Regions from separate parts of the Homo sapiens genome. Here region 1 is linked to region 2. The links come from fine-mapping of genetic effects on gene expression. Tissue or cell type: blood mononuclear cells. Region 2 holds a variant in brackets; the other region holds the start of a gene. All regions are shown on one strand. Distances are from middle to middle. Region 1 holds the start of LINC01954 (long intergenic non-protein coding RNA 1954). Region 2 overlaps LINC01954 (long intergenic non-protein coding RNA 1954).

Region 1 (5,236 bases), 6.3 kb before region 2:
ACTGCAACCTCAGCCTGCTGGGTTCAAGTGATTCTCCTGCCTCACCCTCCCAAGTAGCTGGGATTACAGGCACGTGCCACCATGCCCAGCTAATTTTGCATTTTTAGTGGAGACAGGGTTTCACCATGTTAGCCAGGCTGGTTTTGAACTCCTGACTTCAGGTGATCTGCCTGTCTCGGCCTCCCAAAGTGCTGGGATTACAGGTGTGAGCCACCATGCCTGGCCTTTCTGTTAATTTAAAGACAAGTGTTAGGAAACTAACTCTGGGATCAGACAAACTTTGGTGTATAATTCAGTTCAGCTAAAGCAAACCACTTCATCTCTCCGATCTTCAGATTCTTCATCTATAAAATGGAAATAACACCTACTTCCTCTTTGTAATAAAAACTCAAGAATTTATTTGGCTTATGTGGTTGCCCAACTAGAGGCAATTTTCCCCAGCTATGCTTATAGCTCGTATAGTCATAAGACTAAGAATTAGCTAATAGAGTGTGACAGAAGCAATCTCTGCAACTTCCAGATCACCGTTTGTTTTTTAAATTAGGAAATTACATGCCTTCCTCCTTTTTCTCTCTCTTTCCTGTGGGTTGAAATGTAGAGGTGATAAAATGAGTGAGTTTTTGTTGTGGAATGAAGATAACACCATAGGGTATTACAAAGCAATAAGACAGGAGGAACTTGAATGTTGGAAGCATTCTTTTTCTTTTCTTTTCTTTTCTTTTTTTTTTTTTTTGAGACAAGGTCTTCTTCTGTAGCCTAGACTGGAGTGCAGTAGCACAATCATAGCTCACTGCAGCCTCAACATCGTGGGCTCAAGTGATTCTCCTGCCTCAGCCTCCACAGTAGCTGGGACTATAGGTGAAAGCCACCATGCCCAGCTAATTTTTTCTATGTTTTATAGGGACAGGGTCTCACTAGATTTCCCGGGCCATTCTTGAATTCCTGACCTCAAGTGATTCTCTTACCTGGGTCTCCCAAGGTGCTGGGATTATAGACGTGACTCACCATGCCTAGCCTGAGTGCTGGAAAAGTTCTGTACTTTGACTTGGGTGGTGGTTACACAGGTGTATACACACATAAAAATTGATTGAGCTATTCTTTTAAGATTTATGTGCCTATTGCATGTAAGTTATACCTCAGCAAGAAAAAAAAGATAGAAGGAAGCTGATTCCTGGAATGCCCTTGTGGAGTGGAAGTCACCTTGGGACTGTTACAAAAGAGAAAAACAAACTCTTATAGTGTTTGGGTCATTGTCTGTAGGGGCGTTTTTTGTTCTAGCCATTTAATGTGTACCTTAATCAATATATTTATTAAGGGTAGGAATTTTTAATTTTAATTTTGACTCCATTACCCCATTACAGAGCTTGGTGAATAGAAGGTACCCAATATCTGTTTAATGAATGCATGTTTTTGTAGATGGCTTTTATCAGCATGTTAGAACATCCAGTATAAATAAATTTAGAAAACAGAAAAAATTACGACATGTAAAGGGAGGGACCTTCTTCCCCGACTTCCCAACCCACCTGACTTCTGAGTACTTCCTTTCAGTGGGATCTGGTGCAGCAGTTTTCAACTTGCTTAAACAAATGACAAGAACGTTCTGAGACAGGAAATGCTATCTGCTCGGCTGATGGTGCCAGCGTGGGGGTGAATGTTAAATGGAGTGCTTGGGGGAGACCCCTGATGCTCATGTCCCCACGACTCAGAATCAGACGCAGAATCACAGTGCTCTAGGTGCTGTTAGGCTCTAGGAACTGGGGGGAACGATCCCATCGCCAACCCTGGAGCAAGGCAGTGTGTTGTAAGAGGGGATGCTGCCGGGAGTGCTCCTGAGTCATTAAGGGAAGGCTGTGAACAGGAGGAGGAAGGGCTGACAACACAGCCCACACCCTGCTGAGCCTCCAAGGGGATGGCTCCCTCGTGCAGTCAGCAAACATTCACTCTGGGAGGACTGGGGGCTCGGCTGCAGAGAGGAGCGGCACACCCACCGCCTCTGTCCTCAAGGAGCTCCCGGTCCAGCTGCCCCCGGACAAATCCTATGTTACCAACAGTATAACAACGCAATTTTATTTACACCGACTAGATGTCCAGCACCTATCAGTAATACGCTATTTTATTTTCACAAACATCTGGCTCATAGATAATGTTTATCGATGAGAAAACAGAAATTTGAAGAGGCAAAGCAAGTTGCCCAAGGCCAAGGGAGAAGGTCAGCGTGAACTGCTACCGCCATGTTGAAGTTCATCTTCTCTTCACTGCGAGAAGCTGCCTGGACACCAGGGTGGAGGAGCTGTCAGGGCCCTCACTGTGGAAGGTGCTGGCAGAGGGTGGGGAGGTGTGGCCTGAGAGGGGCGTCCATAGTCCCTGAACTTGGCCTTCATGAATGAGTGGCGATCCAGTCAGCAGACAAAAGGTGGAATTGGAGTGAGAGTAGGGGGTCATTCTAGACAGCAGGAACAATGTGTGAGAAGGCCCAGAGCAGAGAAGGCAAGGCATGTGGCAGCTTGGTGTCACGGAAGCCTGGGGTGGGCAAGGGGCTGGGGAGGCCTGGGAGTTGAGGCCAGGGAGGCGAGCAAATGTCTGGTGGGGCCTCCCTTTGGGGTGAACCCCTACACTGGTCCAGAGGCAGAGGGTCGGTTGTCTGTCAATAGGATGAAATTCCTGTTAGTCGGGGTGCCCACTCATTCACTGAGCACGAGCAGGGGTCTCTGCGGGGCCTGGTGTTGGCCTGTGGCTTGGTGAGACACCCTCTCTGGAGGGGCACCCAGACTCTGTGGTCCCTGCCTGGCCCCTCCTTCTATGTCACCTTCCTGGGGTACCACAGATGCATGCCAAAGACCCCCACTTCTCAAAGTACGTTTCATGGCACACTGAGTTTTTTTGAGGAAAAAGGTTTGTGGTAAAATAAATGGAGACAAGGGGGTGATTGCCTCCTCCTTCTTGGAACTTCTTGCAGGTTAGCTTGTTCAAGTCTCTGAAAAGTAAAATGGTTATGGACGTTGTGTGTGTGAGTGTCCCAGTGTCCCAGTGTCCTGGGGCTGCTGTAAGAAAGCACCACGCTGGGGCTTGAGCAACAGACATCGATTCTCTCACAGTTCTGGAGGCCGGAAGTCTGAGATCCAGGAATCGGCAGGGCCGTGCCCCATCTGGAGGCCTAGGGAGGGTCCTTCCTGCTCCTCCAGCTGCTGGTGGCTGACAGTCCATGGCGTCTGTGACGTCTGTGGCATCCGTGGCACCTCAGGCTTGCTTCTGTCCTCATGTGTCTCTGTGTGTCTCTCTCCTAAGGACACAGTCACACTGGATTAAGGGCACACCCTAGTGCAGCAGGACATCTTATTTTAACTAATCACATCTTCAGCAAACCTGTTTCCAGTGAAGGTCACCTTCTGAGGTGCTGGTGAGGCAGGAGAATAGGGTTTGGAGGCGGGGAACCTAAGGCCGTTTCAAGCCGACTTCCTAGAACTGAATTGAAAGGAAACACCTAACTTTCCAGGACTAAGTAACAAAAGGACCAGAGGCTACTCCCTGTGCAAAACCCCCACCTTTTCTGCACCACAGATGGGAAATTGGTTTTCCGCAACCAGTCAGACTGATTGCCGGGCCGCTGAGTCTTCCTTTGCATAGAAATGCAACTTTGCAACTTCATCTTAGCCTCTGATTGGTTGCTTTTTGCAGCCAATCAGATGTTTGCACAGGAGCGTGATCTTGGTAACTTCATTTCAGCTTCTGATTGGTTGCAGAAAGCAACCAATTGTGGGCCAGCACTTCATTTACATAATATGATCACCAAGTGGCCAATGGGAAACGTGTAGAGAGTATTTGGACCCTAGAAGATTCCAGATCTGGGCTCTTGAGCTGCTGCTCAGTCCACTCTCACACTGTGGAGTGTACTTTCATTTTCAATAAATCCCTCCTTTCGTTCTCTTGTTGTTTCATTCTTTCTTTGCTTTGCTGGGCGTTTTGTCCAATTCTTCGTTCAAAAAGCCAAGAACCTGGACAGCTTGCCGTCACGACCCTCTAGTGGTAACACTGGGGGTTAGAATCTCAACAAAGCTTTCGGAGGGGGCACGATTCAACCCATGACGCTTCAACCTGGAATTTCCCACAGAAGTCATTTTTTTCCTCAGAACTCTTTCTGAAAATGCCCCCTCCCCACCCGCCCCACCCACCATCCCTCAGACCTGGTGGCTGGAGCAGCTCCCTTTGGGAAATGCTTCCTGTGGTGAACAGGATGGAGCTCCCCATGGGGACAGGGCCGTAGAGGAGGCCTCTAGGGCAGGAAGGGGAGTCCGGCGCCACCTGGGGCCCTGGCAAAGGAGGCGGCCGCAGAACGGGGACACAGGAGGGAGGAGGGTGGGGACCTGTTCATCAAGCCCTCCCTTCCCAGGCCGTCCTGGGCCCAGGGGCTGCCTGGTGGCTTCAAAATGCAGCCAGTGTGGGTTGGGCCGGGTTGGGTCCAGGATGTCAAACTCCCAGGAACTCTGTCTGCCTCATGACCTGGTGTGGAGGCCACCGCTGAGCAACGTCCAGTGTGTCCTGGTCACATCTGGGCCCGCACCACCTCACAGGCTCCCGGTGCGAAGGAGTGGGCGGCCTTTTCAGATTCGCCAGAGCTGGTTTGCGGAAGCTCCCAGAACAGACCACGGTCTGTAACAAGCTTACTTCCTGCCCATGAATTTTTCCCTCGACAGGGCTTACAATTAAGTCCATACCCCCGCCTCCCGCCTGGCTTTCACTTCCTTGCTTTTGGAGAGAAGATGAATGGAAATGTATGACTTTGTCTGTGGTATAAAGACATGGATTCAAGTTCAGGGTTTGCCATGGACCTGCCGTGTGACCTTTGGTAAGATCTTTCACTTCATTTTCACATTTATAAAACAGAAGCAATGATAATACTGGCCCTGCCGGCCTTCCGCATGTGTCTGTGGCTGTGGCGAGTGACACGAGCATGAGAAACAGCATCATGAGCATGATAACAGCCACTTTCCTCATCTCCATTCTGTGCCAGCGACTGTCATAGAGGCAGGGGCTCTAAAAGTTCCTCATCAGGTACAGTGCACGCATGCACCGTGTGTGTGATAGAAATCTTTATTTATAGCCCTCCATACAAAAATATGGCATTTAGTCATGGATTAATCAGCAGAAATTGGTATATATAGTGCTCTTTTTCTCTCATTTTAGTGATAAGCTTTTGCTAAAAAAAAAAAAAAGGAGGAAACCATCACTGAATATGGTA
Region 2 (5,490 bases):
GACTTTCACCCCACAACTCACAGCCATCAGAAAAGGCAGCTGTGGAACAGCTGTGGAACAGGAGCACTGGCCTGGGAGTCTGTCATCATGTCACCTTTCTGAACTTATTTTTCTTCTCTGTAAACCTGGAATAGTTGTCATCTCTTCCATCATCATTAGGAAAACTAAGCTGGAAACTGCATATAACTTTGAACACAAGGCCTAGCAGAAACTGAGTTCCCTCATAACAGATCACTCCCTCCCTGGGTTGTCTGCGTGATAGAAGTTTATTTCTCTCTTGTTTTTGGATCTTTCCAAAACAAAATAATGCACAGGATTGCTGAGATGGGAACACAGCAATGCAGGGTACAGAGCTGCTTTTGACTTGGGAAACACCAGGAGAACCTCATTTAATGAAATACCCACTAATGTCCACCATGTGTCTAGGTGCTAGGAACACATGGTTATGACATCGGGAGAAGAGGGAGGCTACACTACAATGCTTTGGGCAGGAGTGGGCCAGCAGCTTCCTTTCCATAATAGAATAAAATTCTTAGGTGAGGCAGAAAATGTCTTTCCCAATTCTGTCATGCTTTGCTCTGTCTTAATCTCCATTTTCAGTCCTGTAGGCCAGTCTTAGGTAATCGTTTAATCCTCTCCTGGGAAGGAGAATGGGGATTAACATTTATTGAGTATCTACTGTGTGCTCAGGGAGGGTCATTTCAGTTTCACTTACTTGACTGGGACGTTGGCCAATGAGGAATCTGAGGCCCCAGGAAACAAAGCTATTGTATGGTAGAGTTAAGATTTGAACCTGGATCTGTCTAACTGCACAGTGCTTCAGACCAGTGAGCAGGCCTTATGTTTTCCACAGGCAACTCTGTGGCCTTGACAGCAGGGACCTTATCAGATTCATGTCTGTCTTCTCAGCAGCATCCAGCATAGCACAGCACGCATGGGTTGGGGCAGGGGACTTATCTGATGTCTGGTGGGGCGACAAGGGAGTGGGCAGGTAGATGGATGATCGGATAGAGTGATCAGCATCCTGCACATGAGAGTCCTGCCAACAGCCCCCCAAGAGTCCCCAGGCCGCCGACTGGAACCCGCTGCTCTAAGAACTCAATCCTTTTCCCTTTATGTGTGCAAGAGTAAGTGGGAAGGAGAGGAGATGACAGCAGCAGGTGGGGAAATGGTTCTCTCAACATTCCCCTCCTCTAAATCAGAAGCTCCTGTCCCACCTCCTCAGCCCCTGAGCCTGCTGACCCCAGGCTTTGGCTCTACGGGCTCTGTTCTGCTGGCTGGGGCTGGAAAGGGCTATGTACTATGGTCCGAGAGAAAGTGCTTTCTGAAATTGATGTGGCTTGTGTAGGAAGGAGGTGCACTTTTTAGCCTTTGTCCTGGTTACAGAGACTTGGGTATTTAACTGTGTTCATTTAAAAGTCAATTTACCCCAGGAGATGGGGGAACAGAGTGCTCGAAAGCTCAAATGGCATGATTTTTGCAAAAGCCAGACGCTGGGTAAATCAACCCCGCTCCCATTTTCAAACTATCAAAATCAAGGTCTCTTTGTTAAGTTGTTTATTTGGTACAGACAAGCTGCCAAGACTGCAAATGAGACGGCGCTTGGTTGTTGTTCATTCCTGCTGATGGCTTGGCGAGGCCAATCTTCCTTCTGTGTTGCGAATCCACATGGCTTAACCCCTCCGGTCCTTCCCTCATCACTCTGCAGCCTTTGCCATGAGCATTTCTCGGAGCTGTTGTGAGAACCCAGTGGGTCAGAGGTGACAGCTTTATTAAAGATTAAGCTGTCCTCTCTTCCCTTGGGGCTGGTAATATTTAACTCTTGCTTTGCAAATTGTTTTTTCATAGATTTACACACTCTCCAACAGGATCATCATTGCTTGAGGGCAGGTATCACACTGTACACTTTCCACAAGGCCTTCACTGTCTTACACAAGCATTCAATAAATATTTGTGGGTTTAGGGTGCATGCGTGTGTATGCACACATGTGTACACATGTGCAATGTTACTGGAGATGGAAGAGTTACACAGAAAACCCCAGGGAATCAGTCAGCAGGCAATTTTAAGCCCAGCTGCTTGGGGGGTGGTGGGGGTGGTTGATAACAGGACAAAGTCCGCAATTATCATTTAGGGGACTTTTTGTAATGGAATCCTTTAGAGAATCAGCTCAGATGACATATTATTCTAACCCCAAACTCAAGATTTTCTCTCTGGCTGCCTGTAGAAAAAGAGGTGTGCATTTGCATGGGAGGATAGCTGTTCCTGCAAACATTTATTCAAGGACAGGAAAAGGCAGGGCCCCTGAGAACAAGAAAAAATCAGTGGGTGGTTGAACCACGCAGTGGGAGGAGTGGGGTTTCTGAAGCCGTCAGGGCAGCATACAAAACCAGGCTCTGCTGCTTGCAGTGAATCTCTCCTCCATTGTAACTGAGATACGTATATCCTCTTTTTTCTTTCTGCTGTTTCTGTGTTAACGGCAAATCCACTTCTTAATTTCA[G/A]GAAGGTCCACAGAAAACATCCTGGGGTCCTGAGCTGAAGTGTGATGGGAGGAGTCCTCTGTATCTCAGTCTGATCCTGGTCTCCCTCTCGGCCATGGTCTCACACTAGTGCTGCTGGGAAACCATCCCTCACATCCAGTCCTGGCATCGGGCAGTGACTCTGGTCCAACTGTTGTCCAACTCAAGGGTTTAGCTGCTTAGATTTTCCTAAAACTTGAATTTCATTTTCCTCTAGCCATGGAATACAGATTAATCCTTTACAATTAAAATCCAAGTTCAGATTTTATTTGTTGTGGTTTTTAATTAAAATCTCACCAGCACTTTGTGGATTTTTTTTTTCTTAGAAAGGCAAACACACTGTGCGTATCAGTCAGCCTGGACTGCCATCACAAAATACCATAGACTGTGTGTCTTAAAACAACAGAAATGTATTTTCTCACAGTTCTGGAGGCTGGAAGTTCAAGGTCAATGTTCTGGATGATTTGGTTTCCAGTGAGGCCTCTCTTTCTTGCTTGCAGATGGCTGCCATTCTTCTGTGTCCTGTAGGGAAGTTCAAACTTTTCCTCTGAAGGTTTGAACAAACTGACAATATGCAGACTAATAGGAGGAAGAAAGGCATTCAAAGTTGCTAATGTGCATAAGCACAAGGCCACAGAAAATATGAGATTCAAAGGAGCACCAGGCGCCTGAGGCTTAAATACCCTCCTCATAAGGGAGAGGGAAATGGGGTTGTAGGCAATTGCGAGGGGCAGTAAATGACTTTCAGTAAACGCATGAGCCCAAAGAACAATGTCCTGGGACAAAGTTCCCCTCTGCTCTGGAGGACGTGGTGGGAAGGTGAGGGGTGGAACTTCACTGTGCACAAAGGTTGTCTAATTATGCAGATAGAGTCTCCCAGGTGATGTCTCCAGCTGCCCTCAGAAGAGTAGATGAAATTCTCTCGGGGAGTGGTGAAGACTCCTGGTCTCTCCTCTTCTCCCTGTGATTAATCTTCTCCCTGTGGTTAATCTTCTCCCTGTGCTTAATCTGATTTCCAAAATCAGATAACGAAATTCCAGAGTGCCCCTTCTATGCTGGGACAGGGGTGGGGAGAGGTGGGCAAGAAGCAAGAGAAGATTAGAAAGTCCTTGGCTGTGAGGCACCTTCTAAAGCTTCCAATTTCCTCACATTCAGAAGTGCCCAGCATGCCAGGCACCATATCCTCGGGTCTCGTTCTCTGTGCCCCACATGCTCACAGCTTTTCCTCCATGCATGTGCACAGAAAGAGGTTGAGCTCTCTGGTGTCTCTTTTTTTTTTTTTTTTTTTTTTTTTTTGAGACGGAGTCTCACTCTGTTACCCATGCTGGAGTGCAGTGGTGCAATCTCAGTGCACTGCAACCTCCACCTCCCAGGTTAAAGTGATTCTCCTGCCTCAGCCTCCTGAGTAGCTGGGATGACAGATACACACTACCACACCCAGCTAATTTTTGTATTTTTATTAGAGATGGGGTTTCACTATGTTGGCCAGACTGGTCTCAAACTCCAGCCTCAAGTGATCCACCCACCTTGGCCTCCCAAAGTGCTGGGATTACAGGCATGAGCCACTGTGCCTGCCTTGGTGTCTCTTATAAGGGCACACGTGTATGACCTCATTTAACCTTAATTACTTCCTAGAGGCCCCATCACCAACTACAGCTGTATTAGGTGTTAGAGCTTCAGTATATGAATTCTGGGGGGACAGAAACTTCAGTCCATAACACTGAGTTTCACAGTTGGTGCTTTGGGACTCAACGGCACACAAGGACTAGATGTTAGAAAGTAGAACTTCTCATTTGAAGATGGGGAAACTGAGTCCTCAATGGGGAAATGATGCAGCAAATGAGAGGTACAGCCAGATGTGTTCACTTTATCCTTCTCCATGAGCAACTTTATGGGAGGAACAGCTAATGCGGAGGGCATCAGGCAAACGCCCAGGCTGTGCTCTTGTTTGCCTGGGAAGTGTTCCTCTGAGTCTAGGTGAGATGGTCAAGGCAGGTCTCAAATACCACCAAGTACAAGTTGACAATTCCTCAGGGCCAGATGTATTTTGGAATCAGTGTTTTTCCCAAAAATATTTTAAAAAGTAATATCATCTATATTCTGTACATTGCACGACACCTCCAGCAACTCTAGAGATCCAGGCAACACCCTGGAATCAAACACATAAATACTTCTGCAGAGAAATCTCAGCGTCTGCACACTACGTGGGATAGGTCAAGGCAGCCCAACCTGTCAGGCCCAGCAGTACCACCACAAATCTATGAAATGACCTTCTGTTTTCAGAATGGCCAACTGGGGATCATGCACTCTGACCATTCAACAGATGTCACTCTTCTGGTGGACGGAGAAGAAAGAAGTAGCTTATTGACAGTTGGAAAGCTGGCAAGTCTGGGGGCTTCCTCCAATGGCCTGGATGGTCCTAGGGGCTCTGGAGACACGAGGAGAGCCCGTCTATTTGCTGACAGTGGGGAGCTACAGCAATGGCTCCCTTCCTTCCAAGGGAAACAGCCCATGACCCACACCTCCCCAGCCCCCATGTTTGGCCAGAAAGGCTTTTTAGCAATTTCTCATCCACTCATTGCCTGCTGAGCTGCAATTGCCACCTCCCCCAATGCTGAAGTGTGCAGAAGTTTCTCTCTGATCCAGGATGTAATTAGCACCTGCCAAAGTACTGGGCTGAGATGAGAGTGGGATTCCACTCTTCTCCCAAAAACTGTTCCTCAAGAAGCAGTTGGTGTCTAGGAAGAAAATTTCTGACTTGGAGGGATTAAAAAGTGATCTTCTAAAATGCAGAGGCAGGTGGTGTTTGTCTGGGCGAATGCGTCTGGGTTTACATGTTTGATTTCAGCAAGCACACTGACAGATGCCTGGTGAGCTGCAAACACTTACTTTGTTCAATAATGGGCCCATAACCCCACACATGAATGCCTCATCTGAGAATATTTTACTGTGCTCCCCTTGACACGAGAGAAT

The links. PIP is the estimated chance that this variant, and not a neighbour inherited with it, causes the effect.
Region 1: it holds the start of LINC01954, and the variant in region 2 is fine-mapped to the expression of LINC01954 in blood mononuclear cells (TOPMed, PIP above 0.99). The same link has a PIP of 0.9 or more in whole blood.

What each region holds. Positions count from the first base shown.
Region 1 is chr2:10,876,131-10,881,366 of GRCh38, forward strand. LINC01954 (long intergenic non-protein coding RNA 1954) reads left to right here and starts at 2,137. Exons shown (of 2, transcript NR_110575.1): 1 at 2,137-2,314.
Region 2 is chr2:10,882,334-10,887,823 of GRCh38, forward strand. It overlaps LINC01954 (long intergenic non-protein coding RNA 1954), which reads left to right. Exons shown (of 2, transcript NR_110575.1): 2 at 2,501-2,785. Among named protein-coding and RNA genes, the nearest start is that of LINC01954, 6.8 kb to the left of the region's middle. The variant G/A (reference allele first, on the strand shown) is at 2,500.